2 separate regions of the Homo sapiens genome follow, and region 2 is linked to region 1. Evidence: fine-mapped expression QTL. A gene starts in region 1. The other region holds a variant in brackets. All regions are shown on one strand. Distances are from middle to middle. Region 1 holds the start of COL8A1 (collagen type VIII alpha 1 chain). Region 2 overlaps COL8A1 (collagen type VIII alpha 1 chain).

Region 1 (4,396 bases):
TCCCAGACGTAACCAATTGAGAATAAGCTTAGTTACAAAGGAAGTAATTGAGGCTTTGAGCTCTTGAAGCTAACAGATGGAAATACGTATGTAAAAACCTAAGTGCTGTGTAAACTCGGCACATATGGACGTAGGTATTATTATTATCCAAATGGCACTACTGGGTATTTTCTTAATAGATTCTTTTAAAATGCTTTTTTATAGTTGTGGGCCTTTTTTAGACGAATAGTTCTTAAGAAGAGGAGGGGATTTTGTCCCTCAGCGACATTTGGCTAAATCTAGAGACATTTTTTATTTTCACAGCTGGGTGGCGAGTGCGGAGTGGGTACTGCTACTGGCATCTGGTGGGTAGAGGCCACGGACACTGCTTAACATTCTACAGTGCACAGGAGAGGTCCCTACAACAGAGAAATATTCTCCCGAAAGTTTCAGTAGTGCTAAGTTTGAGTAATTCTGCTCTTCACCATCAAGTTTCCTTCTCTTGGAGCCTGCTACCAGCCAATGACATCAGGATCTAACCTGAGACGAACCTAGGTGTTCTATACGGCAGCCTGGTGTACTGAAGAGTGCCTAAGGTTTGCAAGCTCGCTAGCTGTGGCTCCCCCTCTCGCTAGCTTGAGCTAGTTATTTAAACCCTTAGAGATGCCTTTCTTTAAATTAAAAAAAAAATAAATAAATCTGCACAATATGAATCATACCTACCTCATAAGGTTGCGGTGAACACTGAATGAAGTACATATATACATATTCAGTACAAGTTCGTTCCTTTATTATTTCCAGCCTACCCATCCCTCCCCCCTCCCATTCCCGCCTTTTCCCCCTCCCGGTACTGTATCTCCCACCCCAAGTCTCAGGTTCTCTTTTAAAATGCTTTAATTCCTTTGGTGGCAAAAATCAGGCTTGGGCTAGGAAGTGAGTCACCACTCAGCAGCGAAAGGAGCTTGTTTTTCTTTCTCTGAATGCATTTCTTAGTAATTTCAGACTGATCCTTTAGCCACTTGTTGGTTGAATCCTCTCTTAATGTTTAAGACACACTGAGAAAGAACTGTGGCACCAAGACGTTTTCCGATTGTTAGGAATGAGAGTGTTTTAAATACCGAAAATAACCAGAGGGCAGAGAGCTCTGAAATCCTACGTTACATAAGCAGATGCTGGAAGACCCAGGCTGGTTCTGAGGTTCCTGTCTCCACAAGCAAGTCCACGCGAATCCTCCCCGTTGCTGGATTTACTTTAATGCTGCCGAAGTCTCAAAAGGGGCCTCTGGATGCTCAGAGGACAGGCAGCGCAGGAACTTCCTTGTCAAATAAGCCTTGCCTGGAGGGAGAGGGATGGGGCGATTTTCACCCGCGGGCGGTGGGACGGGGCTGAGGGCTGGGGGCTGCCTGGCTCCAGGCCATGTCAGTGCCTCCAGCTCCAGGTCCGGGTCCACCCTGAACTTTGGCTCTGCTGCCCGGACGCCCAGCTTCACCTCCCTTGCCTCGCTTAGAAACCCTTCAGTTCTCCCGGACCGCTATGTAGCTTTTCAAATTCCCAAATTCACAGAAAACACCTTCAAAAGTCACAATCACCCACAACTCCCTCTGCCAAAAAATGTCATGCAAAAACGGAAAATACTCCGATTCCCCTTTCCTCCCAGACACTCTCTCTCTCTCTGTCTCTGCTATTCATTTTCTCCCCCACCTTTCCCCATCTGTGGTCAAGATCCCTTTCACTATTTCTAGTTCCCTCTCTTTTTTCCCTTCTCCCTCTCTCTCCCTTTTCCACTCCTTCCTCCGTTGTGACCGCGCTCCCCCTCCCCCCGCCCCGTCGTCTCTCCTCCGCCTTGCGGGCTCCAGTCTCTGCCCGCCCCTCCCCAGAGAAGAGTGTCCAGCTCCTCCAGAGGCTGCCCGCCCGCCGCTCCTTCCCTGCCCACCTACTATGAGGAGCAGCTCCTCCCACCTGCCCATAAAAGCCAAGTGCATGTTACCAGCAGCGGATCACAGCCCTTCCCCGATCCTCTCCGTGGGAGCCAGCGAGCCTCTCTCCCTGATCTTACGTGCTCAAGGTAAGACAGCACTTCTGCAGGCAGCTCACCTACCAGGGGTTGCTATGGGGGAATAAGTCACCCTCTGGCCAACGCGTTTGCTGTTTGGTTAGAGCTGATTCTTACGGATGCGCGATCCGCTGCTCCTTTAACTAGCAACTGGTTTGAAAACAAACTTCTGTTTGAATGGTAAAATAAAAGCTCCTTCAGGGAAGAAACAGCAGCATAAATATTGCGAAACCTTTCTCTTTTTAAATCACTTTTTCTCCTGTTGCTGACTGTTGCTTAGGTTAAAATGTATCTGTTTGGGGTGTTGTACTGACGTTTTTCACTGTACATATTTCACACATCAGTGGGGGCAAGGAAAACGTTGTCCCATTGTCAAAAATGTACTTTAAAAGAACACAGTTAACTTCCTAAAAATAGCACAGTCAAAAGGTCTGCTAACAATTTTGTGATGTTTTCCAAACCCCCAAGACAGCTTCTGTGAGTCCTTTAAAAAAATATCTTTCCAGGTTTTAGCGCTTGGAAAAAAATGATGTGAACGGGTGCCCTTTGCACGGGGACAGTAAGTAATCAGGTGGCTGGTAGATAGGAAGGAACAAATCCAAATTCACAAGCCAGGGTAGAATGTGCTCTCTCACCAGGCTATCTTTTCACGACATCCTAAAATGAGAATTACGATGGAACTAAGAAAGTGTATAAAAGAACTTCATGAATTTCTGTACACACACCTAAACATAAAGTGTTTCAATATGTTTCACAGTAAGAGAATAATACAGGCCAGATTATACAATACTTCTGTGCACACCAGATGGTTGTAAAGAAAGATCAGCGAGAAAGGCTTTGGAAGTTTTAATCCTTCTTTCCACCTTTTTTCCCCCGCATTTAGTAAATCACAACCTACCTGACTGGCATCCAATTATCAGAGATATTCAGTGTTTAAGCTACCCTCTTTAAAAGAAAATGATCTCTTCTTATTCCTAAGGTAGAATAAATGTGCACCTGTGAAAGGAAAAACATACTCCACAGCCACTTCTGTAAAACCAGACACTTGGTCCATGAAGTTTGCCATCAAATTCTGTGGGTTGTGTGGGATGAAACTCTCTCAAGTGGGAGAAAAACCCTCTTCAAATGTTTCCTCTGGGGAATTGCTCAAGACCACTTAGAGAAGGCAAACCAAAAGTACCAGTCAGGAAACCAAACCACTCTTTTAGCCCTTAAGGTTCTTAAAGTAAGAAGAGAAATGTTTCACTTTTTTATTTTTTTGTTTGTTTATATTATCTCATGTGGAAAGAAAAAACTCACCGAAGCTGTATGAAATTCTCCCCTATTAAAGAAACAAGACTCATTAGAAATTTAACTTAGGTCTTCCAAACCATTTCTCCTTAGCTTTTGCATATCAAAAGTAATAAAAATATTTAAAAGTTCTGCTTGAGATGGAGAGGATTCAATGCTGTTACTCAAATGCAAGAGTTATATATAAAGCTTCTGTCACGTTAAATTTTTCTTCATTGGAAAAAAATATTGCAAGAAGTGCAGTTTCCTTTAAGCAAATTATATAAAATTACTATTGGCCAAGATAGTATGTGACCTGAGCATATTAACATACCTTTTATCTCATGCCACAATGCAGACTGCTTGCTTTATATCTGATGCACATAGGTAATCAACCATGACAAGAGTACAGGTATGGGACAAGGCCAGACCAAGTATGTGGCACATTCAAGTTAATTCTTCTTTTATGGTAGTGCCTGACTCACACCCATTATCACAAGGATGAAAATACGCTGCTTCATTCACCAGATCCCCTTGAGGGAAGTTATCTTTTCTTGGGGTGGAGGGGGAAATGCTCCCAGTTTAAATGAGCTTCCAGTTATTCCTAAGTTTGGGGATAAAAGTATTCTCCAAGGGTTTACTTCTGCTTTCTCTGGCAATTAATCCACCGGACCAGCTATGGACCGTTAAACAGTAACTGCCTTCCCTATGTCCCATCAAGTTCAAGCCCCTAAATAACTGAGTGAGATCATCTTAGATTGCTCATGATCTAAGTTTCCCAGGAGCAAAGCTATCCTTTCTCCATAGGGTACATACCAAGCAAGATGACACTGCTCTTCTTAAGCTTTTAGAAAAATCAGTGTCGAAGTTTCATGTAGTCGCCCCCAAATCTCCCCTTCTGCATGGGATGTGGATACTTCACGTGAGTCTCCTCTTTTTGCCATTATATAGCTGCCTCTTGATCAAGTCCATGACTATACCCAACCAATGCCATTGAGGCAGACTTGGGAGGACTTCTTAATGTTTCTCAGAAAAGATAAGATGAGAAGCTGCCGCTTTCACTAGAGACACAAGAAGGGAGCTCTACTGATTTTG
Region 2 (4,396 bases), 73 kb after region 1:
CTATGAGGAATTTAACCAAAAACTAGTACCCACAGAATGTCACATGCCTCTCCATATTGAATCTGACTCCATATCTATTTGGTTTGACCTGTGTGATCACATCAATGTTGTGAATAGCAACAGAGGCATTATCAGTGATTAAAATTAATTTCTTCCCAGAAGATGAGTGTTATGGTGTAATGTTTTTTGAAATGTTTTTAAGAACAAAGCTTAAGATGCAAAGAATTTTCCTATCAAGATACAGCTAAAGAGAGATAGTGACGCATAAGGAAATTCCTTTTAAGAGCCAACTCCCTTCTTCTCATGTGTGAGGAGAACCTAGCTATCAGGCTATTTATTTTGTTGGAGGGGACAGGGGAATCTCAGAATTATACTTGCTATTTAAATAGCCAGTATAAATTTTTTAAACCATACACTCATTCAAATGCCATTTAACTCTGCATTTCATCAAGAGTATGCATGCATGTATGTGTGCATGTGCACACACATTTAACACTAAAAAGGCTGTATCGCTGAAATAAAATTCTGAGTTATATGTTAAACTAGAAGAAGATGACCTGGAAATCCCAGAGCAGAGCAGCAACACTGTCATCCATGGAACTGGGATATTTCCCAGACTTTTGCCTGCGCTACTCACCAAATATTCTCTTTGCCCCACCCACAAAGGAAATGGCATCATGGGGAGGAACAGGTTGTGACACAGCAAAAATCACAGGGCATAGAAAATAAGCCCACTCCACTATCTCCGTCCCCTCCAAGCACCAATAGGAGGATTTAATACAGAAAAATAATAAAGTTATGTATATTTTAAGGAATGTCAGTTATGTCCAAATAAAAGGGACATTGTTAAACTAAGCTAAGTTGCCAGTGGCCCATAAGCAAAATTCCAAATAACATTTAATGAACCAAAGCTGTGGAAATTCGAGCATAAAGAAAGAGGTTTTTCACAAACCTTCCATGAGTTTAATCCACTTGGTCAGCTACTGTCAGGAGGAGCAGCCAGTCTGTTGGCTGTGAATAATAATGTTTGTGCCAGGCACAGGTGTGCTAACATGTGGACCAGGCATGTGTGTTATTAATATTATTATCATTATTCCTATTTTATAGATGAGACAGGGTTAGAGACATTAAATCACTAGCCCACATTCACACAAATGGCTAAGTGGTAAAGTTAACATCCAAAATCAGATTATATGAGTCCCAGGTCAATGCTCCCTGCACTATTAAGAATCTGGAAACTTCTGCTTAAAATCATAATATCTTGAAGAAGTAGGTAAATGTGAGGTAGAAAAAATATATACTTTATTTTCTTGATGGAAGTTCTGGCTCCACTCCAGGGCCTTACCCAAAGGTGATGAAATCCACCATTTTGGAACTCTTAATGGGTACCAAAAGGCAAATATGTTCTCAAACTATAAATGGTGGAGGAGAGGGTCTTGAAAAAACTATCACTATAGGCAATTTATTGTGACAATTCCAAGACTATTTTCTAAATTATTTTTTTCAATTGCAAATCTTCACAGTGGTCAGTCCTGCTTTTCACCTCATTACCTCACATATGAAATCACTTCCTTTTCTGGTTTAGAAGTAAGAAGACAATTTGAAAGCCTCAGACTTGAAGAAACAACAAACAAGAGAAAGCCCCCCAAAAGGTGATCGTTATTCAGTAGTTACATAAAAAGGGAATTGAACTAGAGTCTGAAAACACAGGGAAAGTAAGTCACTAATAGAAACAAATGTAATAGTCACCATATGATTAATTGTTTTGTTTTCAGCCTTCTGAAAACCCTTTCTTTTCTCTTCTCAAAACCCATTCTCGCCTTTCTTTTTCAAAACTCCTGGGATTCTTTTGCACATCTGCAAAACCAATGTCAGTTCCAGGTTCCTATTC[T/A]GGTGTTGAACCAATCTGGCCTCCAGCCTTGGAAAACGAAGCCAGTTCTCACCAGACAAACAAATGGAAGTGACCTAATACCTGGGGGATGTGGGAGTGGGGCCTCGACTGATAAATGGCAAAGGATTTCAGGCCTATCTGGTCCTCAGACCATTGACAAACAGAATCACATCACGGCTTAGCAGCAAATTGATGCAATCATAGGAAAAAGGTGAATTTTACTTTGAGAGTAGAGAGAGAGTATATGGGATACAGAGAATTATAAGGTCAAACTAAGTAGTTGTATTCTTTTTAACAGAATGATTTTATAAAAATAGTCAGCAACATAGGGATAATATTTTCTACCTCTCTATCTTCCTAATGATGATTTATGTCTATCAAACCAAGGCTGGTGGGGGAAAAAAAGCATTTTGATGCTATCAGTAAATAGAAGTAATACTCTTGGTTTGTGACTTTCTTTCCACTAATAAAAATACTTGAGCCTTTCAGGGTTTTGTTGACCTCTATTAAATTCAGGTAAACTTGGAAGTGAGCAAAACAGAAAACCTGTAGTTCTTGGAAAGCAATAAAGTCATACTTTGAAATTGAAAGGTTTTAAAAGGTTAGAAGAGAATGCATTTGGGGCCATTTGTGGCAGAAACCAAAATCAGGTGTTATTATCCTCACCAACAACCATGAAAAGAAACTTAGTTATTTGTGACGGTTCAAGTGGTACTTTCTTTGAGGAAAAAGATTCCAAACAATTCCTGGAAACTCTACCTCTCTAAGAAGATGGCATTTTTGTGAATTGAGGATAAAGGCATCAGCAACATATGGAGTACATTTCCCTTTATAAAACTGATTTGTTTAAAATTGAGGGGAAAACCGCTTGGCAAGGCATGTTGGCCAAGCCAATGGCAAAAAGTCATTTCAGTTTATTGTGATTCTTTTCCATAGTCCACCTCCCAGCCTGTCGGACATCCGGGCTCATGATTTATAGGCCCTGAATTGAAAACCAAAGGCAGCTGAGGATGCCTAACAAATATGACTTTCTCTTGGCATATGAAACACAACATTTCCTTTTCTGCCCCATATCTGCAGAGATGATGGCATAAAAGGAAACAGCTAAAGATTTTCCAGAAACAAGGTGAATTTGAAAAAGCCTCAGAAGTGGCTGTTTTTTGAAGGATTACTTAGTCTAAGGAAGAAATCCCAGAACTGAGAATTAGACAGACATGGAAGCTTTCCAAAAGTGGAGTGACTTATCACCCTGGCTTGCCCAGGTCTCTCCTTGTTTTATTGCTGAACGTCTTGCATCCCTGGAAACCCCTCAGTTTCAGGCAAACTGGGAAAATTGAGCCATAAAGGCAACTGAAGTCTATAACAGACTTGAGATGCCTTTCTTTCTCTACATTTCTCTTTTTCTCTACATTTGAGCCAGAAAGTCGTCTCAAGTCTTTTATAGACTCAAAAGTAGAGAAAGGAAGGTTTTCACAAAGTTGAGAACAGTTTGTGCAATGTGAGCAAGGTGGAAAAGAGTAACAAAAATTCTGATAATAGTAGCTAATATTCATGTAGTCCTTGATTTGTGTCAGGCCTCTGCTGTGTGCTTTACAAACATTATCTCAGTTAATCCTGATTACAGTCCTGAGAGTTACTTCTTCTTATTGTCCCCAGTTTACAGATAAGGAGGCTGAGGAACAGAGAAATTCAAGTAACTTGCCCAAGTTCACACAAGTAGTAAAGATAAAGCCAGAGTTAATGTCATGAAGTACATTGAACTTAACCAAGAACAACCCCTTCAATCTTCCACCACTTAGTCTTCTCATGCCCCACGTGCAGTCTCTTTAAATTTTAAGATGGAATTAGAACAGGACATAGTCTTATTTTTGCTACCCCAAGAACTTGCTAGATGCCAGATGCTCCCTCAAGCAACAGATTAAGAAAAAGAGAAACCAGTAAAGCTCACACTTGTTAAATGGCAATTGGTTTAGCACCTCCTAAAACAGAATCCACGAGCTTCTATGGAATAAAGCTACAAACTCTTACAGCAAGGTTACTTGAAACCTGCATCAGTAAGACGTTCAGTGCCTTCCCTCTAAAGCATTCTTTCAACCGTTGATCCTGGGCATTGGGCAACCTCTGGTGAGCTAAGCACCTTGCCAGACGGCTGTCATGAGCCCTGTTTAATCCTTCTCTCAAGGAGCAGTGGTATTGTTTCAATAAAGTTGCCACTGTAATTGCTTGGCTTACCGTTTAAGAGTATTATAAGTTCTGGGAATGGATTTGTGAAAAAAAAAATACAATTAAAACAAATTTTAACAGTGTTCTATTGAGTATGTAGTTGCACAAGAGGAGCCAACTTGCCCCAGGCTGGCCACTGGAGGATTTATCTTATAGAAGAAGCTGTTTTACTTAATCTGGTTTCCTATATAAAAACAGAATGCCAGGAGCCTGTGGCTCTGATGAGAGGGGAGGAGAAAAAGACATTATGGTTGTATCTCCAGGTTAACACTTAAAAATCAA

The links. PIP is the estimated chance that this variant, and not a neighbour inherited with it, causes the effect. A credible set is the group of variants that fine-mapping cannot tell apart.
Region 2: its variant is the best candidate, but not a certain one, in a credible set for the expression of COL8A1 in skeletal muscle (GTEx, PIP 0.89).

The regions. Positions count from the first base shown.
Region 1 is chr3:99,636,621-99,641,016 of GRCh38, forward strand. COL8A1 (collagen type VIII alpha 1 chain) reads left to right here and starts at 1,974. Exons shown (of 4, transcript NM_020351.4): 1 at 1,974-2,044. It overlaps LOC124909401 (a long non-coding RNA gene), which reads right to left and starts at 2,060. Exons shown (of 2, transcript XR_007095981.1): 1 at 1,967-2,060; 2 at 748-1,314.
Region 2 is chr3:99,709,625-99,714,020 of GRCh38, forward strand. The region is part of intron 1 of COL8A1 (collagen type VIII alpha 1 chain); the gene reads left to right. Among named protein-coding and RNA genes, the nearest start is that of COL8A1, 73 kb to the left of the region's middle. The variant T/A (reference allele first, on the strand shown) is at 1,892.